Homo sapiens: one gene and its partners. The protein of the gene in region 1 interacts with the protein of each later gene in a pairwise test. Each region holds a gene or a part of one and is shown on either strand. Other genes may lie near its edges.

Region 1 (7,784 bases):
AGGCTGGAGTTAAGTGGTGCGATCTCAGCTCACTGCAACCTTAAGTGGTGCGATCTCAGCTCACTGCAACCTCCGCCTCCCAGGTTGAAGCTATTCTGCCTCAGCCTCCCAAGTAGCTGGGATTACAGGTGCCCACCACCATGCCTGGCTAATTTTTGTATTTTTAGTAGAGATGGGGTTTCACCGTGTTGGCCAGGCTAGTCTCGAACTCCTGACCTCAGGTGATCCGCCACCTTGGCCTCCTAAAGTGCTGGAATTACAGGCATGAGTCACTGCGCCTGGCCTAGGCCTTTTTTTTTTTTTTTTTTCTTTTTTGAGACAGAGTCTCACTTTGTCATCCAGGCTGGAGTGCAGTGGTGCCATCTCAGCTCACTGCAGTCTCAACCTCCTGGATTCAAGCAATCCTCCTACCTCAGCCTCCTAAGTAGCTGGGACTACAGGTACCCACCACCATGCCTGACTAATTTTTGTATTTTTAGTAGAGATAGGGTTTCCATGTTGCCTGGGCTGGGACTTCAGGCTTTTACACAAACCTCCTGCTAACATACCAGTAGATGTGTGTTTATCAGTTTATCAGAGAGTTCTCTCTGACCTATCATATTTTCATATTTTCTCTACTCTTTTTTTTTCTTTTTCTTTTTCTTTTTTGAGATGGAGTCTCATGATGTTACCCAGGCTGGTCTCAAACTCCTGGTCTTAGGTGATTCTCCTGCCTAAACCTCCCAAGTAGCTGGGATTACAGGCATGCACCACTATACCCAGCTACTATACTGTTTTTGTCTCTGTTCACCCAGTATTTATCCCACATATGTGAGACGTACTATTGCGTATTAGGAAAAAGACCAAATGCTGTAGTAAGTGCTCAGTAACTGTCTGCTATATGAGTACATGCAGAAACTTTAGCTGTGAGTACATTTGTTTAGAATGAAGAGGTTTCCTTTCCTTTCTGCTGAGAATCAATGGTGTAAGTTAGAAGCAATGCAAGAGATGATATTGCTGCCTGGGGGTATATCAGGTCTTTGGGGAAGCCAGGTTACTGCTGTGGAGAGGAACGATGGAAGGCTTACCTTGCTCTGTGTGTCTTCAGCTTTGAGGAAGGCGGCAGGAGAAAGTGTGGCCAGTACTGGCCTTTAGAAAAAGACTCTCGGATCCGATTTGGCTTCCTCACAGTGACCAATCTAGGCGTGGAGAACATGAATCATTATAAGAAAACAACGCTAGAAATTCACAACACAGAGGTAAATCCAGGTTTCTTTTTTCTCACCTTGTTGAAACAGGGGGAGAATAATTACTGTAATGAAAATCTCCAGAGGGAATAGGTAGGATACCAGGGAAGTTATGAGTTGCTTCTGTTTTTCTAGGGACAGGATGAGGATATTTAACTCACAGCCAATATAGCCATATTACTGCAGCACGATAGGAACATTAAATAGGAGTAAAGCTTATAATTTTAGAAATCTGGGGCTGGGTGCAATGGCTTAGGCCTATAATCCCAGCACTCTGGGAGGCAGAGGTGGAAGGATCACTTGAGCCCAGGAGTTCAAGATAATCTAGGCAACACAGTGAGATCCTGTCTCTACAAAACATAGAACAAATTAGCTGGGCATGGTGGCACAAGCCTGTGAGGTCAAGGCAGCAGTAAGTTTGATCGTGCCACTGCACTCCAACCTGGGCAACAGAGTGAGATCCTGTCTCAAAAAAAATTCTGGATCTTACAGTATAGGAATTCTGCCTTTTCCAATTAACCAACCCTTCCTTTGGGTTTGTAGTAAAGAAGCAATTATGGGAAAAGTTGACAGTGGTGGATAGGAGCCTTGGTGGTAGGGATAACCAGGGTGTTGAGAATCTGGAAAAGCCAGAGGTAGCTAGGGGCAGGCAGAAATAACCTTGTTAACGTTTACTTCTTTTCTTATCTAAGGAACGGCAGAAACGCCAGGTGACCCACTTCCAGTTCTTGAGCTGGCCAGACTATGGTGTCCCTTCCTCAGCAGCTTCCCTCATTGACTTCTTGAGAGTGGTCAGAAACCAGCAGAGTCTGGCTGTGAGCAACATGGGAGCACGCTCCAAAGGGCAGTGCCCTGAGCCACCCATTGTGGTCCATTGCAGTGCAGGCATTGGCAGGACAGGTAACGCACCTAATGCAGCTCTTGGTGTCTGCAGGGGCAGTAGGGGTGGACGAGGAAAAACAAAGCTCTTAGCCCACATCTGTGATTGGAGAAGGAACTCACTTGCTCCCTTGGTGGTGAATTGCTGTGAAAAATCCCTCATCTAATGTCCTTTTGGTGGACCAAGTGATGGCCAGAATATATATTTCACAAGCCAAGTCCTCTAGGGGTTGATGTTTTATACACCCCATCATAACGCTGACTCTGTCACCTGTTAGAACTGTCACTGCAGGTATCCCAGAGAGCTCAGCTGGGCTGCTGCTTCCTTCCCATCCAGCCCTCCCTGGAGGGACTCCCCACCCTGTGCTGTGTTCTCCATTCTGGAGCCAGTTAGCAGCTTTTGCCTTAAGGGCATGTACATGGTAGGAAATGTTGGCCTTTCTATTTCAAAGGTCCCTTTGGGAGAAAGTTGAGAATAGGTTTTTGTTAGGCCTCTGAAAAACTTGTGGACTCTGGAAATTAGGTGTGGGAGTGCTGTCAGTCTGTCTGTCTGGGATTGAAGCAGGAAGTTCCCCTGTGTCACCTTCCCATTTCCACTTCCTGTTACCCCAAGTGTATGTCCTGAGAAATAAGAGGCCTTCTCATTTCTCTGGCCTCCAACACTCCCTGTGACCTCCTTCTTGAGTCCTTTCAGGCCTAAGGCCACCTGGCCTTCTGCCATGAGGCACTTTGCCTGTGAAGTCATTCATTCAGTTCTGCCTGGGTTATTTGGTAGAGGGAGGAAGAGAAGAGAGGTAAACCAGATGTGATCACTTCCTTCCTTCTTCAGGTACCTTCTGCTCACTGGACATCTGCCTGGCACAGCTGGAGGAGCTTGGCACCCTTAATGTGTTCCAGACGGTGTCACGCATGAGGACCCAGAGGGCCTTCAGCATCCAGACCCCTGAGCAGTACTATTTTTGCTACAAGGCCATCCTGGAGTTCGCAGAGAAGGAGGGCATGGTATCCTCTGGCCAAAACCTGCTGGCCGTGGAGAGTCAGTAACTCTCCTACGAACCTCCTACCTGTTGGCCAGCCTTCCTTAAACTACCCTGGACACCGCTGAGCCTATAGGTTGCCATCAGTTACGCTGAAGCCATGGATCAACTTCTTTCTTGTGTCTCCCAGCACACGTGTGCACGCAAGGCAGCCTTTCCCTTTGGCTAGATAAATGTGGTGAAATTGCCACTAGAAAGGGCCAGTAGCAATGTGTTCTTAATTCCTAGCATCTGCTATCAAACTGTGCCTTATTAAAACCAAATTGTGGCTATTGATTTTTGCTAGGGTCCCCGAGGTAAGTGGGGAAGGAACCTCCCTCCTCCTTTCTCCCGCCATTCTTTTTCTGAGGTCTCCTGTCTCCCACTCCTTCCCTTTCCTAGGATTTTATGGGGAGGTTTGATGAGCATTTGCCTTTCTCCCCAGAGAGCTTGACCAAGTTACATATTCTAGAGATCGTCCTGAGTGCCAAGCACGTTTATAAGTAGGGCGTGTATTCCAGTCCTTTCTGTCATTCTGTGTGTGTGTGTGTGTGCACTTATGTGTATGGGTCCATATGTACGTGTGTATATAATATATATTGTATGTGATAATATGATCGTATTCTATAAATACATATACACACGATACTCCTTTCCAGAAGTTCCTGGGGCTCCGTGTTGCAGTTCAGGACTCCTTGCTTCTTGGACCCTACTATTTATCCTGGACTAGCTTGGGTTGGTGATCATGTCTCCTCTTGTCAGGCTACAGAGTGGTGGAAGAGGACACACACACATCTCCTCCATGTTCCTGCCACAGGGCCCCTTCCTTAAGTAATGACTTATCTCCTTCCAGTTGCCACCTGTTGGAGCCAAGAATGTATTAGTTTGTGGTGACACTGGGTTAGCTCAGCATGGATTTCCCTTATCCGATGATTTTTCTACATTTACTTGGCCAATTTGGGGAACAGACCTCCACTGTGATTCCATACTCTCTCTTTGCTTTCACTATCCCAGGGATGGGAGGCGGAGGGTAGAGATGAACTCACTGAGCAGCCAGAGCCAAATGCAATCGGTACGAATCTTAGAAGGAAGGAGGGGGAGCCCAGGTATGAGAAAGAAAAAACCACTAAGAAAATACCTCCCTGGGAGGATGAGCTGGGGCCCTTTTTCTTTTGCTGGATGGTTCCTTTATGCAGCTTGGCCCTGTCTACCGAGATGCCCATCTCTTCCTGCCTGCTAGCCTGCTAGACCCTCAAACTGGGTGGGTTCTGTGTCAATAAAAAGCTTCACCCCCTGGCTGAGTGAGGTGGTCCCCTGCAATCACTGTTTGTCCCCTACCCACCCAACCTGTCCCTGCCTGCTCCCAGCCCACTCATCCTTATGTGCTAGGGATAAATCAAGAGTCCTCAGCACTCCACATTCCCAAAAAATCCCAGGAACTCCTAAACCTTCCCCTGTGACAGAAGATGAGGTTGGCAGCTGATCAGACCTCAATAATTTTATACTGTAATAAGCTCTTTGAATGTGTATATTATTATTTTTTACAATCATTTCATTTTGTATTTAATATCAATGGACTGAGTCTGATTCAGAAAATAATTGTAATGTTCATATTCAATATCTTACAGTGATACAGTTTTGTATTTACATATAAATATACCGACATGATCAAAACCCTTTTAGCTTCATCAATTTAGCAGCCTGGGACATGAGGGAGGGGGTCCAGGAGCTGGTCTGGGAGGGATGAGGGAGGCAGGGAGGGACCCAAGCCTTCAGTATCTGAGACTTTGAGTTCTGACACTATGAGTTCACCTTGTCTGTAGGCCATGGCCCTATCTCTGGACAGAGGGACCAGCACCAGTTCAGTGCTTGAGATGTGCTAAGCACTATGCTAGGTGCTTTTCCCCCACCCTGCCTCATTCAAACCTCACAACAATTCAGTGAGATATTATCTTCTCTCCCTTCTCCTGTGCACCCCTTTCTCATTTCTATATAGATGAGGAAGGTGAGGTCCAGAGGGTTACAGTGATTTGCTCTAAAACGAGCTCAAGTTGGTCTGCTTACAAAGCCTGTGGTCTCTTCACTGCATGGAAGATGGAGATCTTGTGTTTGGAGAACAGAGGTTTGTTTAGCTCTCCTTTCAGAGTAAAAAAAGTTCTTAAATTCCAGGTTGTTGTTCTTGTGCCCATGCTTCATGTAGTAGACGCGAAGGGTGACAGGGTTGGTGACTGACTGTCCTAGCTAGGACCTCCTGATGTAGGGTCCTCATGTCTGCAGCGTACCAAAGGGGTTATCATTCTCCCCAGGAGACTCCATATCTATGGGTACATGGTCTTTGTGAGAAGATCTTGAGTCATTTGCATTTATCTCTTAGAAAGAAAGGAACCAGAAGCTTTGTACATGGAAGACCACTCCCCATATCATACCTGTTGGCTGTTGATGGCCTGCCCAGTTGGGGCAGTTGTGGCTGGGAAATATTGGGGTGTTCTTAATAATAGTCATAGCAGCCAATTTACTGGATGCTCACTCTATTCCAGGCACTGTTCAGAGTAATTTCTAGGTATCATCTCATTCACCCTCAACAACCTTTTGAGGTAGGTATTGACAGAAGAAAAAAATTGAGAGACAGGAATGTTAATTTGCTACAGCCAGGATCCCAGACCATCTGACTCCAAAGTATCTTCTTTCACCTCTTACACTAGACTTCCTCTAAGGATCCATCTTCTGATCTGCCAATAAATTTTTATCGAGTTTCTTACCATAATCAGGAGCTCAAGTGTAGAGCAGAAGATTAATCTAGTTCCTTCTCCAGATGAGCCTCCATTCTCTTGGGAGTGCACAAACATAAGAAGTGAACAGAGATTCTTGGAAATCTGAGAAACCAGAGAGGTCAGGGGTTTGGTGGAACATGTAAGAAATGGGATTAATGATAAACGGCCTGGAGGAGGTAACTTTAAATTGTCATTTATTTGAAGAGGCTGTAACCCGACTGCCCTGTGAATTTAAGGTTATGCATGAGTTCCTCATTGCATATCTGAAGACTGGTGAGGTTATCTATCACTTCAGCTCCATAAAATGCTGATTTCTGGGCCCATCCAGTAGGTTGTTAGTGAGTGACAGGATTATCCAGGTTTGGGAACCATAGATTTAGTTCATGTTTCTGACCCTATAGAGAGTTAACAAATTGATGTCTCCTAAATTTTCAGTAAAACTCAGAGGAACTCCTCCCACTGCCATTGTTTGTAGCTTTTACCAGCGTGAACCTACCTGTGTTAGGTGTTAAAGGAGGAGGTAAAGGAAAGGGAAGGCAGAGACGCAACCCAGAATCTGTTTGGCAAGTCAGGGTTCTCATACAGGAGACTTAGTGAACAAAGCAAGAGAAAATGCTCAGGGTCCAAGTGCAGTGGCTTTATGCCTGTAATCCCAGTACTTTGGAAGGCCGAGGTGGGCAGATCACCTGAGGTCAGGAGTTTGAGACCAGCCTGACCAATATGATGAAACCCCATCTCTACTAAAAATATAAAAATTACCCGGGTGTGGTGGTATGTGCTTGTAATCCCAGCTACTCGGGAGGCTGAAATGGGAGAATCACTTGAATCTGGGAGGCAGAGGTTGCAATGAGCCGAGATCGCGCCATTGCACTCTAGCCTGGGCAACAAGAGTAAAACTCCATCTCAAAAAAAATAAATAAATAAAAAAGAAAGACAGTGTTCAGGAAAGAAGAAAACACTGAGCTAAAGCAGGCTTCTGCTTCTGATTTGATGGCTGTTTGTTTCACCTTTCTCTAACATTCCCATGCTATATAATTTTTCAAACATGAGATAATCCCTGTGTCCTTTTTCCCATTGCTCCCTTCATCTTGCCCATCCTCATTGGCTAGGATGGGACTCCTGAGACGAAGGGTGCCCCAGCATCCTCAGCCTCGGAGGCCCACCCTTATCAGTCTTCATGTGACAGTATGCAGGTAAATGACAGAGTAGGACTTGTTCTTGGGAGAATGGACTATTTAGCATCATAGCCCTAGGGAAATTTGGTTCCTTCCCTGAAAGGAATGCTTCCTGTCTCTTGGGACAGACAGACACACATACAAAAACTTTTATAAATCAGAGACCTAGAGGGAATTGGGCCAAGAGGCATTGGCCAAGTAGAAAAGCTTCTCTAGAGTGACCCAGCTCTTTTGTGGTTTTGAGGTCTTACCACTGAACCAAACCCAAGTCCTAGGTTCCCTCTGTAAAAGAAGGGGCTACACTAGATGATCCTACCATGGGTCCTCTGACTGTCAGGGTCCAGTTCTTTGTTAGACAGTGCAAACACCCATAGAGGAGCTATTAGGCCTTTACTTGGGTTGAGTTGGCTCCCACTAGCACTCCCCACTTTTCATTTTTTTTACTTTCAGAGACAGAGTCTCACTCTGTTGCCTAGGTTAGAGGGGAGTGGCATGATCATGGCTCACTGCAGTCTCAACAACTGGGCTCAAGCAGGAACCCAGCTTTTTTTTTTTTTCTCTCTCTCTCTCTAGAGACAGGATCTCACTATGTTGCCCAGGCTGGTCTCGAACTCCAGCCTCAAGCAATCCTCCTGCCTCGGCCTCCCAAAGTGAGAGGATTACAGGCATGGGCCACCACACCCAGCCTCTCCAGTTTTAGTGTGTTTTCAGAGTCTC
Region 2 (7,784 bases), on another chromosome or scaffold:
TAATAGACAAAAAACAGAAACAACTTAGGTGTCCAGCAATGGATAAAGAAACATTACTAATTCTGAAAAGCACCCAAAGCCAAATGCCAAGGAGAAGGGGATTACTGGATTGCTCTCTGGGTATAGATCTGCAAGCCTTCTGCACAGAAAGGAGAACAGGGTTTTCCACACCAGTCTACACATATGAAGTCAAACGCTGCAGGACATTACAGACTGCCTCAGTAGGAACAACTCAGAGACTTGTTACAAGGTTAAATCTAACCAAACTCCATGTCACCTTTTATATCCCACACCCACTGAAAGTTGGAAAATTCTCCCTTGTGATTTAAAAACATCTTACAATATTTGCAAGTATATTACTCCACTACACCACCAAAAACTGTAGGTCTAAATACAGGCTTAACTCTATCACCCTTTTGGCAAGAAAATGTTACTTTACACTTACGGTTTAGCAATTCTGGTTGAAACAGACAGACTCACTCAGGTCACCCCAAATGCTGGGAGCAGGAGAATATTTTAAAGATATATACAGAAAGAAGAACGCCAGGTTTCACAGAGATTGAAATTCTTCATGACATGGCACATCCCTTCTAGTTAAAAAACACCTCTAATGAAGGACAGGAATTCTTGAAAATGGCCTTCAAAAGCCTAGTGAGATAACTGCTATTCCACTGCTTTGGACAAGTACCTTTGTTAAGATCAGTCAGCTGAGGCCAGGGTGGCAAAAGTCACACCCTAGAGGACATGATCACAAATGTGTAAGCTACCATGAGGGCTGCTCCCTCAGCAGAAGCTGAGGCTCAGAGCATAGCTGGTCTCTGAACATAAAGCATCCTCTCTAGCTGAACTGATCATACTTAATTCCAATATCCAATATGGTCGATATATTAGAACAGAGAAAATGCAGGAATACCTAGTTTCACTGTACTTCACAGATATTGCCTTTTTTAAAAAAATAAATTGAAGGTTTGTGGCAACCCTGCATCAAGCAAGTCTCGCAGCACCATTTTCCCAACAGCATGTGCTCACTTCACATCTCTAGCGTCACACTACGGTAGTATTCGCAATATTGCAAACTTTTTCATTATCATTATGTCTGCTATGGTGATCTGTGATCAGTGATACTTGATGTTACTACTGTAATTGTCTTGGGGTGCCACAAACCATGCCCATAACACTGCAAACTTACTTGATAAATGTTATGTGTCCTGGCCGGGCACGATGACTCACGCTTGTAATCCCAGCACTTTGGGAGGCCAAGGCAGGCAGATCACCTGAGGTCAGGAGTTGGAGACCAGCCTGGCCAACATGGTGAAACCCCGTCTCTACTAAAAATACAAAAAGTAACCAGGTGTGGCGGTGCACGCCTATAGTCCCAGCTACTCGGGAGGCTAAGGCAGGAAAATCGCTTGAACCTGCGTGGTGGAGGTTGCAGTGAGCCGAGATCACGCCACTGCACTCCAGCCTTGGAGACAGAGAGAGACCCTGTCTCAAAAAAAAAAAAAAAATTGTGTGTCCTGACTATTCCACCAACCAGTTGTTCCCATTCTCTGTCCCTCTCCTTGGGTCTCCCTATTCCCTGAGACATTACAATATTGAAATTAGGCATCTCTGTAGGTTATCCAACTTCTGCTTGAATTTCTGCAAGTGCTGGAGAATGCCCTACCAAAAGAGCATTGTCAGGCCATGGTAGCAGATTTTTAAAAGTCTGTTTGGACAAAATTTACCTTTACCTTCAAGTAAACTTTGCCAGTTAACCTTAGATTCTTTTTCTAAAGCAACAAATAACAAGTTTATTCACTTACCTAAGAACACTTTAAGTATCTGATGGGAGCTCTCCTATTTCCCTTTAGCCCTCTGTAGACTAAATCCACTGAGTAATTGAAACTTAAATTGTTCTTCCTAGAACTTGATTCCAGTCCCATGACCATTCTGACTGTCCTCTTTGGGCATATCCTAGTATTTTCAAACCACTCTTTAAATATGCACTTGCAATTGAGAAGAATACCCAGCTATTAGACCAGAACAGAATACTATAGGATTATTAATTTTAAGGAACTGATCACTAATTTCACTAAGCCAATATATATTTTTCAGCAACTATATCACACTGGTGGTTCATATTAAGGAAATAACCAATAAATTATTTGGATCTGCATTTATCACTATTAAATATTAATCATAGTCCAAAAAAAACTTTTGGTAATATCAGCACAAGAACAGTTTACTTTCGAAATTTTCATAATCACCATCATCTCATATGACTGTAAAGCTACAGGGCCAAAATAAAACTGTGTTCAAATCTTAGTTTTGTCACGTGGCACAGCAGCCTCCTATGGCAGCAGCCTTCCCCTGGCCATATGAGATGCTCAACCTAGACAAAAGTTTTCTAAACATCTGAAGAATACCGACCATGGCAACGGACACTTCACCCTAAATGAAGATTGTCTCAAAAAGAATGACAAATGTGGTTTTTAAGGCATGGTTTGAACTCTGGTAAGATTAAAAAGAAACTGTTAAGAGAGTTGTGACAGCCTGGACTAAAGAAACAGTTCAAAATTAATAGAAACTTCTGGGCTCCCAATTTTCAATGGGCAAGAAGCAGGCCAAAAATGCTACTCAGCTGCCAAAAGGGCTCATTCTTATAGAAAAAAATAAATAAAGGACCTCTCAGAGGGTGGAGCCAAAAGCAGAAGAAAATAACAGGTGAAGGAACCAATACGAGGTAGCAGAACTGGGCCCTAATCAAGAAACATTCATTGTCCCCAATGTAGGGGACCCTAACAACACGTGCCTGGCTAGATTTCAGAACTGCTATGCATCAGCAGGTGCTACACGCCTCCCACTCTTTCCCTATTTGAATGGGAGTGTCTAGTGAAGTTATCCTACGACTACCTCGCCATTTTATACTAGGTGTATCTTCAGATCATAGGTCTGTCTCCAGTCAAGAAGTGGAGCCTATTGCTTGCCACTCCTTTTAAAATCTAGGCTGAACTTGTGCCTTGTTTTGACCAACAGAATACAGCAGAAGTAGCATATGATTCAAGAAGCCTTGTAGATTCAGCTCTTGCCCTCTGGGAGCACTGCTGCTACTATGCACAAAGCCCATTTATTACTAGTAGAGAGGCTACATGAAAGACAGCTAATTGCTGTGCCCACTGACATCTCCAGGTAACCAGCAGGCACTTGAGTAAGGATATCTGAAACCATAAACCAGGTGACTGAAGCCACTTTAGTGACTCCAGAAAAGAACATTAAAAAAAAGAAAAAACCTGCCCAGCTAAGTCTAGCGCAATTAACAGAATCGTGAGCAAATAATTGTTATTTTAAGCCATTATATTTTGGGATTGTTACATAGCAACAGATAAGTGAGACAGTGGTAAATAAGATAATGGTGCATCTTACAAAGGATGGCATCTTAAGTTGATGAAATATAACAGCAGCTCAATATGTGCTTTTTAAAAACATTAACATGAGGAAAAATGAGCAGGAATTCATGCAGTTGACATGAACGTAAAATAACACAGGCCCACAAACTGCAACCACTATGTTCCAGATTAATGTTAAAAGACAGTTTTCAAAATGTGACAATCACAAAGGAAATCCTCAGAATACTTTCCTAGTGCTATCCAATCTCCAAACTCAAAATTTTATATCTTTTTTTTGTTTGTTTTTTGGGTTTTTTTTTTTTTTTTTGAGACAGGGTCTCACTCTGTCACCCTCCCGCCTCAGCCTCCCAAGTAGCTTAGATTACAGGTGTGCACCACCACACCCAGCTAACTTTTAAATTTTAGTAGAGATGGAAGTCTCACTATGTTGCCCAGGCTGGTCTCAAACTCTTGGGTTCAAGCAATCCTCCTGCCTTGGCTTCCCAAAGCACTGGGATTACAAGCATGAGCTATCAAGCTCAGCCTCAAAATTTTAAACAGATAAGGGAGGAGTGAAATCAACTTGTAAGTATCATTGTCAAGGTAAATGAAATAAGATGGATAACATTCTTGATGTTACAAAATGAAAACTAAGGTCTGAACGTTTGTTTCCTTAAAAATCACATGCTGAAACCTATCACCAACGTGATGGTATCAGAAGGTGAAGACTTTGTGAGGTGACTAGGTCAGCAGGGCTCTGCTCTCAAGAATGGGATTAATATCCCTATTAAAAAAAGGACCCAGAGGCCAAGTGTGGTGGCATACACCTGTAATCCCAGCACTCTGGAAGGCTGAGGCAGGTGGATCACTTGAGGCCAAGAGTTCAAGGCCAGCCTGGCCAACATAGTGAAACTCCGTCTCTACTAAAAATACAAAAATTAGCTGGGCATGGTGGCATGCACCTATAATCCCAGCTACTCGGGAGGCTGAGGTAGGGGAATCGCTTGAACCCAGGAGATGGAGGTTGCAGTGAGCCGAGATGGCACCCCTGCACTCCAGCCTGGGCGACAGAGCAAGACTCCGTCTCAAAAAAAAAAAAGAAAAGAAAAGAAAAGGGCCCCAAAGAGCTGCCATCCCCTTCTGCCATGTGAGGACACAAAGAAGATGCCATCAATGAGGAAAAGGACTCACCATACACTGAATCTGCTGGGACCTTGATCTTGGACTTCCTAGCCTCCAGAGTTCTGGGCAATAAATTTCTGTTGTTTATAAATTACCCACTGTGAGGTACTATACTTTGTTACAGCAGCCCAAACAGACTAAGACAAATGAATAACACACTTGAATTATGGGTCATTTTCAATTTTAAATTTCAACTCTTACAATGCCACCAGATTACTGTAACTTAAAAGATAACATAAGTGAGAATGCTGAATTTTAGGCCATTTCTAAAAAAAATTTCAATAGACTAAAATTAATTTTTGAGGCCAAAACAAAATGGACACTATGCTCAATTTTAACATGGAGATATTTTATTAGGGAGGAACTACGTGTTGTGAAAAAGCACCAGAATTCAGACAACCTTGGTCTAGTCTAGCAGGTTGATGTAGGCAAAGCACTTAATTATTTTTAGCTTTGATTCCTTGACTATGATCAGTCAAACAGCTACTACCAGCACTCCAGAAGATCCAAAAGTAACATAAATTTCACTAAATTCATAGCTAAGCATATAGAGATTATTAAACAGAACTTTTTTTTTTTTTTTTTTTTTTTTTTGAGATGAGTCTCGCACTGTCGCCCAGGCTGGAGTGCAGTGGTGCCATCTCAGCTCACTGCAACCTCCACCTCCCAGGTTCAAGCAATTCTCCTGCCTCAGCCTCCCAAGTAGCTGGGATTACAGGTGCCCGCCACCACGCCAAGCTAATTTTTTGTGTTTTTGGTAGAGACGGGGTTTCACCATGTTGGCCAGGCTGGTCTCGAACTCCTGACCTCGTGATTCGCCCGCCTCAGCCTCCCAAAGTGCTGGGATTACAGGCGTGAGCCACTGCGCCTGGCCATTAAACAGAATTTCTTAAATTACTATTAATACTAAATATTAGTACCTAATTAAAACCACTATACATTAAGCTCTTACTATATGCTAAATGTATGTTCATCTAATCCTATTTACAATCCTATAGAGAATGTACTATTACCCTATTTTACAAAATAGTAAACTGAGTCTTTCTTTTTTAATACTTCTAGGGTACATGTGCACAACGTACAGGTTACATATGTATACATGTGCCATGTTGGTGTGCTGCACCCATTAACTCGTCATTTACATTAGGTATATCTCCTATCCTTCTCCCCTCCCCCCACCCCATGACAGACCCCGGTGTGTGATGTTCCCCACCCTGTGTCCAAGTGTTCTCATTATTCAATTCCCACCTATGAGTGAGAACACGCGATGAGTAAACTGAGTCTGAAAGAGGTTAAGTAACTTTCCAAGGTCTCACAACCAGTTAGTGTCAAAGCCAGGATCAAGCCCAGATCTTTTCAAATTCTTGAGCCAAAATTTTTTAATCCTATCCTCTGCTGCCTCCCCTCAACTCTAACCTCCAAATACAAAACAAGAATTTTGGTATCAAAATGCAACCAGGGAGCACATACAGTGTCACCAGTAATGGACTAGAAATCAGGAGACCTAAGTTCTAATGCCAATTCTACACTACCTACACATGGGCACAAGACAATGAGCAAGTGTGCCTCTGTGGGCTTTGTTTTTTAATCTATGAGATCTGACTGAATATATTTTAAGAATTTGCCCCCCCAGCTGTGAAATTCTAATTCTCTTCATATTTTAAAAATTAATTTAAATGTTATTTCCATAATGAACTATCTTATTCAATCAATTATCATGTTAATATGCAAAAGCATAAAGCATGAAAATTTTCTGACCACTTACTAATTTCTTCCTTTTATGAACAAACTGCACTTGTTCCGGCACTTAACCATACACTCTTATGCTGACTTGTAAGAGCCTATATTGCTGACCTCTGCTGGTTATTAAACTCTCCCCTTTCATTCATTTTCCAAGCATATTTGTCTCACTGTTAGACTAATAGCCATAAGGACAGAGACACTTCTTCAGTATTTGTTGAATGAATAAACTCAACAGAAAACAAAGGACATACAGCAATTCTTCAATAATTACATGTTGACTATACAGAAAATATTTTTCCCTCTATAGCTTTAAAACCCCATTTTAACAGCTCAAGAGTGGATCCTCAGAAACTTCTATATAATTAATCACCTATTTTCTTTTCGATCACTACAGATTTCCAGTTATTCCAAGTTTCTTGATGCGCAATGAAAGCCATTCAAATTTCATAAAACCATTCACTAAGCCTAGGAAAACCACTAGAATATAAAGCAGGGGCTCAACAAAAAAAAATGAACTGAATCCAGCAAATAGCCTTACAAGAACCAATAAAATCAAGTAAACCACTATGGTTATATTATATAAGGAGAATAGACTCAAACTACTTTCATGATACGGCACAAACGAAGATGCTTGCAGAAGTATTCCTAACATAAAAGTGAAGGAAAAGAAATGCTAAAAAATGAAAAAGGCAATGGAAAACAAATAGGATTTAATGAAAAAGAAATTAGCATAGTTACCAAATGCGAAATATCATATACTTGAAAATAAGAGCTTTATCTTCAAATACTGCAAATAAAAACAGATTTGAAAAATGGGTCGGGCCCAGTGGTTCACGCCTGTAATCCCAGCACTTTGGGAGGCCAAGGCGGGTAGATCACGAGGTCAGGAGATCGAGACCATCCTGGCTAACACGGTGAAACCCCGTCTCTACTAAAAATACAAAAAATCAGCCGGTGGTGGCGGGCGCCTGTAGTCCCAGCTACTTGGGAGTCTGAGGCAGGAGAATGGTGTGAACCCAGGAGGCAGCGCTTGCAGTGAGCAGAGATCGCGCCACTGCACTCCAACCTGGGCGACAGAGGGAGACTCCGTCTCAAAAAAAAAAAGAAAGAAAGAAAGAAAGAAAAACGATCTGCTTGAACGCAGTGGCTCCCGCCCGTAATCCCAGCACTTTGGGAGACTGAGGCAGGTGGATCACGAGGTCAGGAGTTCAAGACCAGCCTGGCCAATACAATGAAACCCTGTCTCTACTAAAAATACAAAGAATTAGCCGGGTGTGGTGGCGGGCACCTGTAATACCAGCTACTAGGGAGGTTGAGGCAGGAGAATCACTTGAACACGGGAGGCAGAGGTTGTGGTGAGTTGAGATCACGCCATTGCACTCCAGCCGGGGCAACAGTGCAAGACTCCGTCTCAAAAAAAAAAAAAAAGTAAAAAAAGAAAAATGATCATAAAGTAACTCAAATGATTCTAGAAACATTTCAGATTTAAGT
Region 3 (7,784 bases), on another chromosome or scaffold:
TACATATCAGTACATACCTACAGCGTGTGTGTACATATGTGTGAGATGTATTGATTTCTACTCTGATAATCCTTGGTTATCCTGGAAACTAGTGTCTGTTCTTTGTAGAGACACCAATAGTATCTTGGCTTTAATTGCCAAAGAGCTCTACATCTGGAAGGAATTGAATTGAGTAACACTGGTATTCAAAAGTTGATCTGACATAAAGCCAATCTGATGGCTTAAATTTCATGATGTCCTGGAAAAATTGAGGTAGGAATGATTAATAACTAGTAAGATTTTTAAGGACAATAAGTAAAAGGAAAAATTGATAAATTATACCTCATTAAAATTAAAGACTTGCTCTGAAAGGCCCAATGAAGACAATTAAAAGATAAGCTACATACTGGAAAAAAATATTTGCAAACCACATATTATACAGAATATATGAAGAGCTCTCAAAACTCAACAGTAAAAAAAAAATCTCATTAGAAAATGGGCAAAAGATACAAAGATATTTCACTGACAAGGATATACAGATGGCATATAGGCACATGAAAAGATGTTCAACCTTATTAGGTCTTAGAGAAGTACAACTTAAATCCACAATGAGATATCACCACACAACTGTCAGAATGGCTCAAATAAAAAATAGGGACAATGTCAAATGCTGGCAAGAATGCAGAAAAACTTATCAGTCATACATTGCTGGTGGAAATGTAAAATGGTGTAGCTAGTCTGGAAAAGAGTATGGCAGTTTCTCATAAAACTAAACATGAACTTAACCATATGACCCAGCAGTTGCACTCTTGGTCATTTACCCCAGAGAAATGATAGCTTATGTTCCCCCAAAAACCTATACATGAACTTTCATAGCTGTTTTATTTATAATAGTCCCAAACTGGAAACAATACAGATATCCTTCGATGGATAAATGGGTAAATTGTGATACATCTATACTATGGAATACTACTCAGAAATAAAAAGGAAGGAATACTAATACAACTTAAATGGATCTTGAGGGGCTTATGCTGAGTGAAAAAAGTCAATGTCAATAGGTAATATGCTGTATGATTTCATTTATATAACATCTTGAAATGACAGAATTACAGAGATGGAGGACACCTGTCCATCAGAGAGATCAGTAATTGCTTTGGGTTGGAAGGAGTGTCGGAAGTGGTTATGGCTAAAAAAGGATAGCACAAGGGATCCTTGTGATTGAACTGTTCTGTATCTTGATTGTGGTGATAGTCACACAAAGGTATACATGCGATAAAATTTTATAGAACTAAATACAAATGAGTGCGTTTAAAACTGATAAAGTCTGAATGAGATCAGTGGATTGCATTGATATCAGTTTCCTGGTTGTGATATTATATTTGTGTAAGTTTTACCATTGGGGGAAACTGGATGAAGGTATATGGGATCTCTGTATTATTCCTTATACTTGTATGTGAATCTATGATAATCTCAAACTAAAAAGTTTAAACAAATACTTTATACCAAAGAAGCCTATATAAATTTTTTTTGGGCTTTCATTTTACCAGCTGATGTTCTAATCATGTCAGATAAAGATGATATTGAGACTCCACTGCTAACTGAAGCAGCCCCCATCCTTGAAGATGGAAACTGTGAGCCAGCCAAGAATTCTGAGTCTGTTGACCAAGGTGCCAAACCAGAGAGTAAATCAGAACCTGTAGTTTCCACTCGGAAAAGACCAGAGACCAAACCTTCCAGTGACCTTGAGACTTCAAAAGTTCTCCCTATTCAGGTATCACAGACCACAGAAAAAGTAGGGTATCTATTAAAATATTAGGATTAAAAAATGTTGGGGCTAAAAGAAATTTGGCATAAATACCAATTTAGAATTGCTCTTATTTCTTTCTCTTTACAACCCTAAAATACAGTCTTTTCAGTTCTATAAATGCCTTTATGAATAATTGCTTTTGCTATGTGGTACTTACATGCTGATAGCATATATCTGCCAGTCAAGCAATACATTTCTTTAGCTAAATAATATGTATTTGTTCACCCATGCTTTTGGCTAATAATTAGATACCTTGTCTGTACATTCTGATTTTCCTCTAATTTTTTCATTTTTCTTTGCCTTTTGTTTTTCTGCCTACTGGGAAATTAGGATAATGTTTCCAAAGATGTACCCCAGACCAGATGGGGTTATTGGGGGAGCTGGGGCAAGTCCATACTCTCCTCAGCCTCGGCTACAGTAGCTACAGTAGGTAAGATCATCAGTCATTTAGTTATTTTTGTGTGTGTATTTATTTTATACAGATCTGCATTGCATATGACTTGGTTAAAATTCTTCTTCCTTCCATGTTTACTCAAAGGCTTTATAATTTGAGGATGCATTAGTAATGATGGGCTGATATATACTGCCACTAGAGTTTGTAGCATTTCCTCATTAGAATATTGAAGTCTAGGAATTATTACTGTGAACTTATTCTTTGGTGATGATGAATCAATTTTTTTAAGGAAATAGTGCCAAGATTAGTTATGTATTGTCAAAATAACATGTCTTGTGGTCCTAAATGATTTTAAAAATCTTCAAGTTTGATTTTTGTTTCTTCAGTTTTGGTGACAAATAGCAAAAAAAAAAGTTATTTTTCTCATTAGGACAAGGCATTTCAAATGTCATCGAGAAGGCAGAGACTTCCCTTGGAATCCCTGGTCCCAGTGAAATTTCAACTGAAGTCAAGTATGTAGCAGGTCAGTATATGGAAACATAAAGACCTAGAATTATGAATTGAAATGGAACAGTTGAACTAATTTTTCAGTAGGTATTTATTGGACATCTGATACTCAGGGCATCGTGGGACTGTAGTGAGAAAGAGTATTTAGAATCTTTAGTTCCCAATTAGACATCTATGTCCTTTAACTGCTTATGTGTCCCTTTACTTCACTTTCCACATCTGAAATAGAATGATATTTTATATCTCAAGTGACTGTTATAAACATTTAACAAATAAGGCCATGAATATACAATATAAAAATTGCTTAGCATTTTGCTTGGCATAATTGAATAAGAGACTAATAAGAGTTAGCTGAATCTGAGTCTGTTGTGACATGATAAAAATATTTTAATGTATTGTTTTGGGGGTGTATTCCTTTTGTGTTCAGATTTTTATGAAGACTACGTTTAATTCTAGAGGCTAGCCTTGATCAGACAGAAACCTACTCTCAAACTATGAAGGCTAGAATTATAACCAGAAATCGAGAGGGCCTGGGACCAGAAAATAGGAATCTTTTCAAGGCCTGGTTTGCATTCTTCATCTCTCATGGGCTTTATTGTCTCTCACTCTTGTTTCTTTTTGCTGATCTGTCTCAGTTTTTTTCTTGAAGCAGACTGACTTTCGCTGCTTATTTTCCTCAGCTCCAGCTTTATATTGAATCCTGGCATCAGTTATTTCCACTTCTGAATTCCTAGGTAAAAGAATCAGTCTAAACTTGGGTCATATGTCCATGGATCACTTATGGCCTGGAGACAAGTCACATGTATAAACATGGCTGCAAAGGACTATGGATGTGAACTGGAGGCACTGTTCTTAGTGATGCCTGCATCAGTTAAACTATTTTAGCTGCAAGTAACAGCATGTGTGAATGAAAGTCAATATATTTTTCTTACTTAAGGACTCTAGAAGTAGGCTGTTCCAGAGTTAGTTTAGTGGCTCAATGATGTCAAGGTTCTGGGCTGGCTTCTCTACAGTATTCTTTGTTGATTTCTTTATAGTTTCTTTATGGTTGTCCGATAATACTGCAACTCCAAGTATAGTGTTCTAAAATAACCATGCTCAAAGTCAGGAATGAAGTAGATGGGAAGTGTCATTTTTCCTCATGCATCCCTCTTTCTTTAAAGAGGGGAAATGTTTTCCAGGAGTCCCAAGCATGTTTCTTCTCCAATGCCATTGCCTAGAACAGGATCTCATGTTCTTGATGTAGCAGCAAGAGATGCTGAGAGAGTGCGTTTTGGGCATTATCAGAAACCTCAAGATCAGGATATGGGTTTAGCAGCCAAGGAAAAAGGGGGTTAGAAGTGGCTTTGAATATGTTAACAGCAGCATCTTCATGACACTGAAAGATATCTACCACAGAGGGCCATGTTTTAAGAAGGGCTTTGAAAAACTGGGTGAATCCAGAAAAGAGTCAGCTAGATAGTGTGAATCAAAAAGTGTCTGAGACAGGTCTCAATCAAGTTAGAGGTTTATTTTGCTAAGTTTGAGGATGCACCTGGGAAAAAGGAACACAAACCACAGAAACAATCTACCTTCCATACTTTTTTTGAAGAGGGTCTGGTGACTTCAATATTTAAAGGAAGAAGAGTGGGCTCTAGGGGAAAGAGGAAGTAAAGAAAGGGGAGGGTAGATAAGAGGGGCAAGTGGTTGCCTTCTTTTGAATCTTTGATCAGTGTTCACTGAATCCACATTTTACGTGTAAAAGGAAAGAGCAGAGGTAGAGTCAATTATGTATTTGTCTTATGCTCAGTAAATTGGCAGTTTACATGAAATAAAGTAAACGTAGAGTAGCTACCTGTGGAAACATCTGGCCTTCTGTCTGGCCTTTCTGCTTAGGAACAAAAGGAAAGACAGTTTTTGTGTAACTTAGCTTTCAGCTTAACTGTTCCCTTTGGCATAGTAAATTTGGGGTCCTGAGTTTTATTTTCTTTCACAATAGTGAAATGTCTAGAATTAAAGTCTTACAAGAGAAAGTCTTATAAGAGATTGAATCTGGTAATCTGGAGAAGGGAGATTGGGAGAATATCCTGGTCTTTTTCTGAAGACTAGCATGGAGAAGAGGATTAGGTTTATTATTCATGGTTTATGGGGAGAACTAGTAACTAGTACCACTCAGTGGAAGTTATATAGAGTTAAGTTTTAGTTTAATAAAGAGTTTAACAGGGAGAACTTTCCAAAATTACAATGGACTGCCTTTTGATACTAAACCCCTTCTATCTTCTAAAGTTCCTGAGGAAGGAGGTTAATTCCTCTGCCAAGGATGTGTCTTGTAGTCAACATGTATATTTTCAGAATTTTGAGATAAGCATAGGCCATTGATGGAAATCATTGATCATCTATTAGGGATTTTGTTTTCTTCCTTTAAAGGGGGCTATCTTCTGCTTTCCTTTTGTCGGCGGGCAGTTAAGGTATTTGCAACTTAAATTGATGCTTTAAGGCTTTTTTTTTTTTTTTTGGAGAGGGAGTCTCACTCTGTCGCCCAGGCTGAAGTACAGTGGTGCGATCTCAGCTCACTGCAGCCTCTGCCTCTTGGGTTCAAGTTCTTCTCCTGCCTCAGCCTCCCAAATAGCTGGGATTGCAAGCATGGGCCACCATGCCTGGCTAATTTTTGTACTTTTAATAGAGGTGAGGTTTTGCTGTGTTGGCCAGGCTGGTCTCAAACTCCTGACCTCAAGTGATCCTCTTGCCTCGGCCTCCCAAAGTGCTGGGATTACAGGTATAAGCTGCTGTGTCTGGCCAAGACTTTTTGTAAAGCTTGTTTAGGGTGAGTCTATAGTGGCCTTTACTCTAACTAAGTACTGTTTATCTCTGCTGCTAAGGCTTGACTCTTCCGAAGTCTCCACCTTAATTCCCAGGTGTTTAATATAAAGTCTCTGCTTTTGTGGTTGGAGGTCAAATGTCTCTCAGCCTAGCGTGAGCTCTGGGGATTGCTTAGCTTAGAGCTCCATGGTAGTTCTTTGTACAGACTTATGGAGCCTCCCAGTGCCTCAGCAGTGCAGTATTTAAGCAAAAACACCTAAAGGTGTCTTAGGGCATGCCTATGCGGATTCTTAGAACTTTTTAGCTATGTAGCTTCCTCCTCTACGGTTTTCTGACCTGCAAATTCCGATTGCTTCAGCATTCCCAGATTCCAGTCTCCGTTTCTTCCACTCAAACTGATTGCCATGCCCTACTTGGGTTTCTCCTCCCTCTGTCATGGCCTGGAAAGCTCCTCTATACAGAAAGCCAAGCCAATTGTAAGGTTTACTTTGTTGTTCTTCTTGTGTGAACCGAAGTCTTGTACTGCCTATTGTCCTATGTCTGAAGACAGTTGCTTCTTATATATTGTCCAGTTTTTCAGTTGTTGTGGCAGGAGGTCATATCTAATACCAGTTAATCCATCATGCTAGAAGTGGAAGTCCTCTCTATAATATTTGATAATACTGAAATTATTTGGTATAATGGTTGTTCTCCTATGTGAAATTTTTAAGTTAATGGATTTTTGTTTTGAAACATACCTATCTTTGTAATGTATGTCTGTTTGATTTCTACTAATCATAATTTTCTAGGATAAAATTTAAAATAGACTGGATTTTTAAAAATCAGGTTTATCAAATTATAATTTACACACAGTAAAATTTATTCTTTTTAGGTGTACAGTTTTACATGTTTTGATCAGTATATATACTTCTGTTTATACTGTGTAATCATAGTACACTGTGATTATACAGATATAGAAAACATTCTATATAGAATGATCAATACAGATATATAGAATGTTTCCTATATCTGTATTGATAATTGAGACATAAGAAAATTTTTATTACCCCAAAAAGGTTCTCTCACGTCCTTTTGTAGTCACTGTTCTCCTTACTCTCAGTTCTTAGCAATTACTGATCTGTTTTCTGACCTTACAGTTTGACCTTGTCCAGAAGATTATATAATTGGAATCATACAACATATAGGCTGTTGTATATATCAGCAGTTTGTTTACAAAACTGGATTTTATTTTCGAAATGAAAAGAAAATGAAAACTGCCTATCTTAGCTTTCATTTTAAAATAAGCAAATGGTTTAAAATGATAAAAAGGGCTAAGGCCTAGTATGTAGTAAGCAGGGTCTAGTTTTAAAAAATTCACATAGATGCTAATAAAGCCTGAGAGTTAAGGGACCTTCCCTTCATGTTTACACATCCCCTCCCTCTTGTAGGAGAGACAAATGCCAAAGAGAATGAAAACTCCTCCCCAGTGGCTGGGGCATTTGGTGTATTCTCTACCATCTCTACTGCTGTTCAGAGCACAGTAAGTAAAAAAGTGCAAGGTGGTCTGTTCCTTTCCATTATTATAATGGGTTTGCATATCTTTCTCTCTCTTTTCTTTGAACAGCCATGTGGACTGATTACTTTTAAAGGAGTCCAAGCCACTGAAGATCGGTCACTTTGGTCTTATGGGTGGAGTGAATGCTACTTGAAAACTTTCATTAAAGCAATAAGGAAGAAAGTAGGAAATAAAGGAGTAGCAATAAATAAGGGAGTAGGAGTTACAGAGAGGCAATATACGTATTATTTTATGGATTAGGAATTCTTAATTTGGTGGCCCTAAAAAATGTCTACTTTACAAAAATATTTTTCTCATAGTTGCATCTTTTAGGCAAAGGGGAAATGTGATCTTTATGACAGATATTTGCAAAACTATGTATGATTAAAAACATTTGTAAGAGGATTATCTAGGAAGCTAAATATCTTTGCTACATGAGGATAGATAGCTAGTTTTTTTTAAATTTTAACTTTTTATTGAAATATACATACAGAAGAATGTAACAAGTGTTGTTTGAATTTTCAGTGTGAAACACCCAGAGTAAGAAACAGTATTACCGTAATCAGATCTCCCCACCATCTTGTGTCCTCTCCCAGTTTTCTGTGTCTTCTGCTCTCCCCCTCTCCTGCACCAAGATAACCATAATCCTGACTTCCACCATCATAGGTTAATTTTGCCTGCATTTCAGCTTTACATAAGTGGAATCATATATAGTATCTAACTTCTTTCATGCAACATTATATTTGTATAATTTACCTATGCTG
Region 4 (7,784 bases), on another chromosome or scaffold:
GCTGCCCTTTCTTGGGGACCCCTGTATCACCATGCCTGGCCCTGATGCCTCTTGCCAGGGTGCCATTCTGTGGGAAGGCCCTCTGCACTGAGCTTGGGCACTGACATTCTGCCCTGGGCCCCTGCCTCACCACTGTTACCCTGCACCTGCACCTTGCTCTGCCCCGTCTAATCTAGGACTGAATTCTTCTGGGAGGGGAGAGGTTACATGTTCCCTGTCACTGGAATAACAGCTCTGGTGATGGAATTGGTTTTCATTTCACAATTGCAATTTTATTTATAGTGAAACAGACAAACATTTGTATTGGAGCAAATTCATGGGCATATCTGTAAAAGGAAAAATATAGTTTGAATAGCAATTTGAATATGAGTTTTTTTTTTTTTTTTTTTTGTGGTCGTTATAGGGAGCCGAAAAAGGCAGCAGAGGCTGGCTGTGTAGGTAGAGGGCAGCTTGCCCAGTTGGCAGAGGTGGGAGTAGGATGTTGGAGGAAGGTGTACCGGTTCTGTCTGGCCAAACCCATGCTGGAGTCACCTCAAAAGCAGTGGCAGGGGAGTTCCCTCAAGGGGCTGCTCCAGACTGCCTGGAGATGGGGCTGGCTTGGATTCCAAAGAAAGAAGCACTAAACGCCAGGGTGATAAGTCCACAGCATTCATGACGGGAACTTACAAGAGCTGCGGCAGTCCCGGGACAGCCAGTGAGAGAAAGGGACATTTACCTAGGGCTGTCTGCCACCCGGGGGTTGGGGTATGGAGTGTATGTGGGAGTTTAAGGACTTTGTCATGGTGGGGCTAGTTTGTAGGTGTTTCTCAGCAGGATGAATCTCCCAGTGTTCTCCAGCAACAGCCTTTGCTCTTTATCAGTCCTGGGAACGTTCACGGCCGCAGTTTGCATTCAGTCCTGCAGGGACGCACACAACTGGCTGGGTCACAGAGTGGTCAGGGCATAGACAGAAAGTAGCGGGGGACTGGGGAACCCTCCTGTGACCCGTGTTGGAAGGTGCTGATCCCCGTTGTCCGCCCTGCCAGATGTCCAGGGTGCTGCAGAAGGACGCGGAGCAGGAGTCACAGATGAGAGCGGAGATCCAGGACATGAAGCAGGAGCTCTCCACAGTCAACATGATGGACGAGTTTGCCAGATATGCCAGGCTGGAAAGAAAGATCAACAAGATGACGGATAAGCTCAAAACCCATGGTACTGTGTCCCTTGCAGCCTGGAGGCTTCATGAGAGCGGATGAATAGAGAAGTCTGTATGTGAAGATTAGTAGAATACATACTTTGCTTCTTGGATGTTCTGAATATTGATGGAAACTTAAGTTATCTGGAGGAAACTCAGTAATAAGTATTACTTTCCTCTTATTTGCTGGTGAACCTTTGCTTTCTAAGCACAGAAATATCTAAGATCCTCTCAGATTTTCCTCAGAGCCAACTCTTTAAAATTTTAAGCTAACTCTTAAAAATTGTAGGTTTTCATTTTTAAATTCATCACTTTTCTGAGAGAAGCCCAGAAAAAAAGTCTCACAGTGGATTCCCAGAGGCTTTTGTTCCACTCTCTAGAAAAATGCCCAGCAGTGTCCTCTTCTGAGTGTCACCTCCCGGGTCCAGTGTCCTGTGATGAAGAGCGCTTTCTCAGGGCAGCCCGTGTGCTGAGGGACCCCGGTCACAGTGTGTGCACAGTCAGAGAGCTGTCTCTGTGGCTAGGAAAACAGACAGAGGGGCCTGTCCAGGCCCAGGACAAGCTGGACTCCCACCAGGGGTTCGTGTACTGTGCACACTGGGAAATAAGGAGGAAAATTTAGTCCTGTTGGTAAGTGGTAACTGTATTATACAAAGAATCTTTGATTTCATGAGTCGTTTTAAGAGTTTTCAAAATTAAAGCTATTCAAATCTCAATCTGAGTCGGATACTATTTTAAATAATGGCATAATGAGATGGTGGGTGACTTAAAAATTCTATTTTATATTTTCTAAATATGTTGAGCGATTGTTCCATTTATAATCAGAAAGTGTATTATAAGGGAAAATAACATTTCTGTGTATTTGAATATTTTGTTAATTTTTCAGGACTGACATAATTATTTATCCTGTTTTTCCTTTCAGTGAAAGCTCGGACAGCTCAATTAGCCAAGATAAAATGGGTGATAAGTGTCGCTTTCTACGTATTGCAGGTAAGTGTGCTAGAGCGTCAGCCGGGTCATTGGAGTTGGTGACCCCGGCCTCCAGAGCCGTGTCTGCAGATCCAGGGCTGGGAGTTCGGGCTGTTCCACCTTCAGCTGTCGTGTCGTGTGTCCCTGCCCACATGGAGCTCTAAACACTCTCGGTCTCTAAGTCAGACTAAAAGGAAGCCTTTCTCTTGAGGAGAGTTGTTAAAGTTTGGGACTTTTTGGCAGATGGACTGTGAAGTAAGTTCTCGGAGAGCTTTCACCATGCCTGCATCCCAGTGTGGTTTGAAGGGCCTGGTGGGATGAAGCGAGAGGCTTATAGATGACATCAGTTTTTTCTGAGATCTTCAATACTTTTGGCCCTTACTTGTTACCTGGTGTACTTCATGCACGCTCTCCACCCTCCAGGTAGAGAACCAGCTTTTCCGACTGGAATTGGCTTCTAGCCTCCCTGCCTGGGGCTTAACCCTCATAGCCTCTCCTGGAGCTGTTGGGCTCTGCTCTGCCCCGAGAGTGCAGTTGTGCTGCCCAGACACCTTTAGCAGCTGCCGTAAATATCCGAGTTGCAGTACCATGTGATCCGGTAACCAAGGCAAAGGATTCAAGCCCACCCCCAAAAAAGCTTAGTTTGGCAGGGTATATTGAAGGAAATTAATTCTGAGGCACTGTCATTTGCTAAGAGATAAGTTTCCGCAGACAAAGGAGTTAGGCCAGCAACCCTCTTTCATGTCTCTTCTGAGCGGCCTGTTCAAGCCAGGAAGGGGACAGATGACAATCGAAGGAATGCTGTGGGGGGATGGAGGGAAATAAAGCATCCCCCACCATTGAAACTTACACAGGGCTCACCTCTGCGTCCCTTGCTAACACTGGTGTACGTGGGAGAATTCACTATTTTTTCCAAGGATGGCTTTCGTCACTAATAAGGTGTGTTGAGCATACAGTCTGGCTACTCAAACGAGATACTCAGTGAGAAAAGCACACCCGTGTTATGGGAGACTTTGGTTAGTTTATCAGCTAATTTAAATTATGTGTAGATTGTGTTCATCCTAAAACAGTGAAATGCCAGTTCACATAGGAAGGCTCGCCTACTTGTTGGCAGTGTTCAGACATGCTGCTGAGCTCGTCTTTAATTTGACTTTCTCATTCAAGGTTTCACCAAGGGACATTAGTGGCTGTGCGTGCTCATCTGTTGTCTGTGGGGACTGGGTTCCTAGGCTTGAGGTGCTCAGTCTGGAGAGTTTTCCTGGTTTTATTTTCGCATTTCCCTGTCCTCCCTTCTGTGTGGTCGGTTGTGTGATTGGCAGGCTGCTTTGCTCACCAGAGGTGTCTTTACAGGCTGCCCTGATGATCTCACTCATTTGGAAGTATTATTCTGTCCCTGTGGCTGTCGTGCCGAGTAAATGGATAACCCCTCTAGACCGCCTGGTAGCCTTTCCTACTAGAGTAGCAGGTAAGAATTTTCTGGAAGATGCAGTGGAAGAGTGTGAATAGGCTTATGTAGAGGTGTGTGGTAGAAGATTAAGTTAGCCTGACATCCTCCTCACCGTCCATTTAGTGAGCGGGGTTTTGTGTCTCAGCCTCACATGAGGCTTCCCATGAAGAAACTGAGGTCTGAAAAAGTTACTTCACTTGTCCAGTGTCACCAAAATGTTAAGGAGCAAAGCTAGGATTCAGTCCTAGGTCTGTTTCCGGGATCCATGCCCAATACGTCAAGTCTGATACCCCATTGAAACACTAGCCGTAGTTCCAAAATTATGTATCTTTTCAATCCCTATTATGGTTGGCTTCTCTGTAGCACTTGCTGCTCCTGGCTATTCTTTTATTTTTTATTTTTTGAGACTGAGTCTCACTCCGTCACCCAGGCTGGAGTCAGTGGTGCGATCTTGGCTCACTGCAACAACCTCTGCCTCCCAGGTTCAAGCAATTCTTATGCCTCAGCCTCCCAACTAGCTGAAATTACAGGCATGCACTACCACGCCCAGCTAATTTTTGTATTTTTAGTAGAGACAGCGTTTCACCATGTTGGCCAGGCTGGTCTCAAACTCCTGACCTTAAGTGATCCTCATGCCTTGGCCTCCCAAAGTACTGAGATTACAGGCATGAACCACTATGCCCAGCCACGTTCTTTTATTTTTGAAGATAAATTTTTTTTAGATATTAAAAGTAGTACATGTCACTATAGAATGATTAGAAATATAGCTATCAATTAAAAATCCCAGCTGGGTGCAGTGGCTCACGCCTGTAATCCTAGCACTTTGGGAGGCCAAGGTGGGCGGATTGCCTGAGCTCAGGAGTTTGAGACCAGCCTGGCCAACATGGTGAAACCCTATCTCTACTAAAATACAAAAAATTAGCTGGGCATGGTGGTGCGTGCCTGTAATTCCAGCTACTTGGGAGGCTGAGGTGTGAGAATCACTTGAATCCGAGAGGTTGCAGTGAGCTGAGATCACGCCAGTGTACCCCAGCCTGGGTGACAGAGTGAGAATCTGTGTCAAATAAAATAAAATAAATAAAAAATAAGATTCCTATTAGCTTTTAATGCTGTGATATGTTTTTCTTTGCCTTTTTTTCCCCATTTATTTTGATATAGTTAAGGTCACCTGGCACATCACATGTTGTGCCTCCTTTTTACTTTATAGGGTAAGCCTATTCCCACATGTTTTAGTTTGTTAGGGTTAAGTGAAATACTATAAACTGGGTAGCTCATAAACAACAGAAATTTATTTCTCACTGTTCCGGAGGCTGGGGAGTCCAAAATCAAGGTGCCGGCAGATTTGGTGTCTGATGATGGCCCATTTTCCAGTTCATGGATGGTGTCTTCTCACTATGTCCTTGCATGGTGGAAGGACAAGCTCCTTTAGGCCTCTTTTATAAGGGCACTAATCCCATTCACACGGACTCTGCCCTTGTGACTTAATCACCTCCCATAAGGCCCCAATTCTTAATGCCATCACTGTGGGGGGTAGCATATTAGCATATGAATTTTAGGGGGATACAAACATTCAGACCATAGCACCATATCAGTACATTTCTTTTCTTTTTTTTCTTCTCTTTTCTTTTTGAGGCAGGGTCTTGCTCTGTTGCCCAGGCTGGCAGTGGCACCCTCATAGCTCACTACAGCCTGGAACTCCTTGGCTCAAGCGGTCCTCCCACCTTAGTCTCCTGAATAGTTAGGATCACAGTTGCACACCACCATGCCCAGCTAATTAAAAAAAAAAGTTTTTTATAGAGATGGGGTCTTGCTTTGTTGCTTAGGTTGGTCCCAAACTCCTGGCATCAAGCAATCCTCCCTCCTCAGCCTCTCAAAGTGCTGGGATTATAGGTGTGTCACCTTGCCTGGCAAATTTCTTTATTAAGGAATTTTCAGTAGCTGTTCTTCATTTAGATATCTCATTTGCAGATTTTCCTGATGAAGGATATTTATTCCGGTCCTGATTTTTTGCTATTAAAGATAATGCTGCAGCACACATACTTGCTGGTCTTTGGTTGTGATTTGTGATTATGTTAGAGGTGAATACTGTATCAAAAGGAATGACTATTTTTTTTTTTTTTAAGACCGAGTCTCACTCTGTCGCCCAGGCTGGAGTGCAGTGGTGTGATCTCTGCTCACTGCAACTTCCACCTCCCAGGTTCAAGTGGTTCTCCTGCCTCAGCCTCCCCGGTAGCTGGGATTACAGGTGCCCACCACACGCCCGACTAGTTTTTGTAGTTTTAGTAGAGACAGGGTTTCACCATGTTGGCCAGGCTGGTCTTGAACTCTTGACCTCAGGTGATCCACCTGCCTTATCCTCCCAAAGTGCTGGGATTACAGGTGTGAGCCACTGTGCCTGGCCAGGAATGGCTGTTTCAAAGACTCCCAATTTAGCTACCACCCCTGTCCCCTTCCCCACCCTTTCCTTCCCCTCTCCTTTGTTTGACACAGCTGGGCCTAGGCCAGGAGCTCTGCACTGCGGCCAGAGAAGCATCCAGCCACCCTTCCATGCATCCAGCAGGTCCATGGGTCACTCTTGCAGCCTGTCTTCCTGGACAGGGGGATATGTATGCCTCTCCATTATTGGTGGGGCAAGAAAGGCATAGGTAGACATTGCTTTGTTTATAATGCTTTCTGAGAAAGGAAAAATAAATAATCTTACAGGTTTGGTTTTGGAATCTATTAATATCATAAATAGTAATGCACATCTCTCTGGCAGGAAAGGGAAATTCAGCCCAGGGTCCACCGTTCACTGCAATTCCTGCTTAGTAAAGAATACAGCCCTATGATTCTATAGAAAGTGACAAATTCGGGCTGGGAATGGTGGCTCACACCTGTAATCCCAGCACTTTTGGAGGCCGAGTTAGGCAAATCATCTGAGGTCAGGAGTTTGAGACTAGCCTGACCTACATGGTGAAACCGTGTCTGTACTAAAAATACAAAATTAGCCGGGTGTCGGCCGGGTGCGGTGGCTCATGCCTGTAATCCCAGCACTTTGGGAGGTCGGGGCGGGCAGATCATGAGTTCAGGAGATCGAGACCACGGTGAAACCCCATCTCTACTAAAAATACAAAAAATTAGCCGGGTGCGGTGGCGGGCGCCTGTAGTCCCAGCTACTCGGGAGGCTGAGGCAGGACAATGGCGTGAACCCGGGAGGTAGAGCTTGCAGTGAGCCAAGATCGCGCCACTGTACTCCCACCTGGGTGACAGAGCGAGACTCTGTCTCAAAAAAAAAATTAGCCAGGTGTGGTGGTGCACACCTGTAATCCCAGCTACTCGGGAGGCTGAGGCAGGAGAATCGCTTGAGCCCGGGAGGCAGAGGTGCAGTGAGCCGAGATCGCACCATTGCACTCCAGCCTGGGGGACAGAGCGAGACTCCGTCTCAAAAAAAAAAAAAAAAAAAGAAAGTGACAAATTTGAACCTATGAAACATAAACTTCACTTCAGCCCAGCACTGCTCAAAAAGAATGGAAATACTCTCTTTGCTGTGAGTTAAAGACAGCAGAGACAGATGGGGGCAGCACTGCTGGTATGCGCTCTCATGGTGAATGTCTTTGTTTTCAGGTGGTGTTGGAATTACCTGTTGGATTTTAGTCTGTAACAAAGTTGTCGCTATTGTGCTTCATCCGTTCAGCTGAACAGGAGGATGGATACAGCCGCGAGGCTAAAAAACGGATTTCCTCTTCCTAGCTTAAAATCTGATTTACACTGTTTTGTTTTTTAAGAAACAAAAGTGCATAGTTTAGATTTTTTTTTTGTTGAATATGTTTGTTCTTGGACTTTATGAGAGAGTCTTATAAGAATCACGATTTTCTACACCTGTCATTGAGCCAAGAAAGTCCAGTTTATGACACGTATGTACTAGTGAACACCGTCCTCGATCTGTACGAAATGTGAAATGTTTAGGGACATCTCCATGCTGTCACTTGTGATTTGCCCTCTTATGTATTTTGGTCATATTGCCAACTGGAAAGTCAAAATTTTCTAACAACTTTAAGTAAGTTCTTTGAAGACTTAGTGCTGTTTTTAATCCAGTTTAGAAAGTAACTTAATTTTAATACCACTACTAAAAATTCGAAAATTTCTTCTTTAATCACATTCAATATGGTTAAAAGAACAACACTAATTGACATTGCGTGGGCTTTTTCTCCCTTT

What was found.
Region 2: the proteins of PTPN9 (region 1) and SCAMP1 interact in binary tests that used the Homo sapiens proteins (3 or more experiments, as listed by UniProt).
Region 3: the proteins of PTPN9 (region 1) and FAM114A2 interact in binary tests that used the Homo sapiens proteins (3 or more experiments, as listed by UniProt).
Region 4: the proteins of PTPN9 (region 1) and GET1 interact in binary tests that used the Homo sapiens proteins (3 or more experiments, as listed by UniProt).

Annotation. Positions count from the first base shown.
Region 1 is NC_000015.10:75,464,134-75,471,917, reverse strand, and holds part of PTPN9 (tyrosine-protein phosphatase non-receptor type 9), read left to right. Parts: intron 1-1,067; exon of another isoform or gene 1,068-1,087; coding exon 1,088-1,238; intron 1,239-1,918; coding exon 1,919-2,126; intron 2,127-2,934; coding exon 2,935-3,149; 3' UTR 3,150-7,784. UniProt on the Homo sapiens protein: Protein-tyrosine phosphatase that could participate in the transfer of hydrophobic ligands or in functions of the Golgi apparatus.
Region 2 is NC_000005.10:78,362,833-78,370,616, reverse strand, and holds part of SCAMP1 (secretory carrier-associated membrane protein 1), read right to left. Parts: intron 1-7,784. UniProt on the Homo sapiens protein: Functions in post-Golgi recycling pathways. Acts as a recycling carrier to the cell surface.
Region 3 is NC_000005.10:154,028,710-154,036,493, reverse strand, and holds part of FAM114A2 (protein FAM114A2), read left to right. Parts: exon of another isoform or gene 1-252; intron 253-1,526; 5' UTR 1,527-1,540; coding exon 1,541-1,750; intron 1,751-2,116; coding exon 2,117-2,216; intron 2,217-2,610; coding exon 2,611-2,703; intron 2,704-6,913; coding exon 6,914-7,005; intron 7,006-7,784.
Region 4 is NC_000021.9:39,389,673-39,397,456, forward strand, and holds part of GET1 (guided entry of tail-anchored proteins factor 1), read left to right. Parts: intron 1-1,025; coding exon 1,026-1,191; exon of another isoform or gene 1,192-1,804; intron 1,805-2,096; coding exon 2,097-2,164; intron 2,165-3,493; coding exon 3,494-3,608; intron 3,609-7,193; coding exon 7,194-7,267; 3' UTR 7,268-7,784. Other genes in the region: GET1-SH3BGR (WRB-SH3BGR readthrough), read left to right, coding at 1,026-1,191, 2,097-2,164. UniProt on the Homo sapiens protein: Required for the post-translational delivery of tail-anchored (TA) proteins to the endoplasmic reticulum (ER).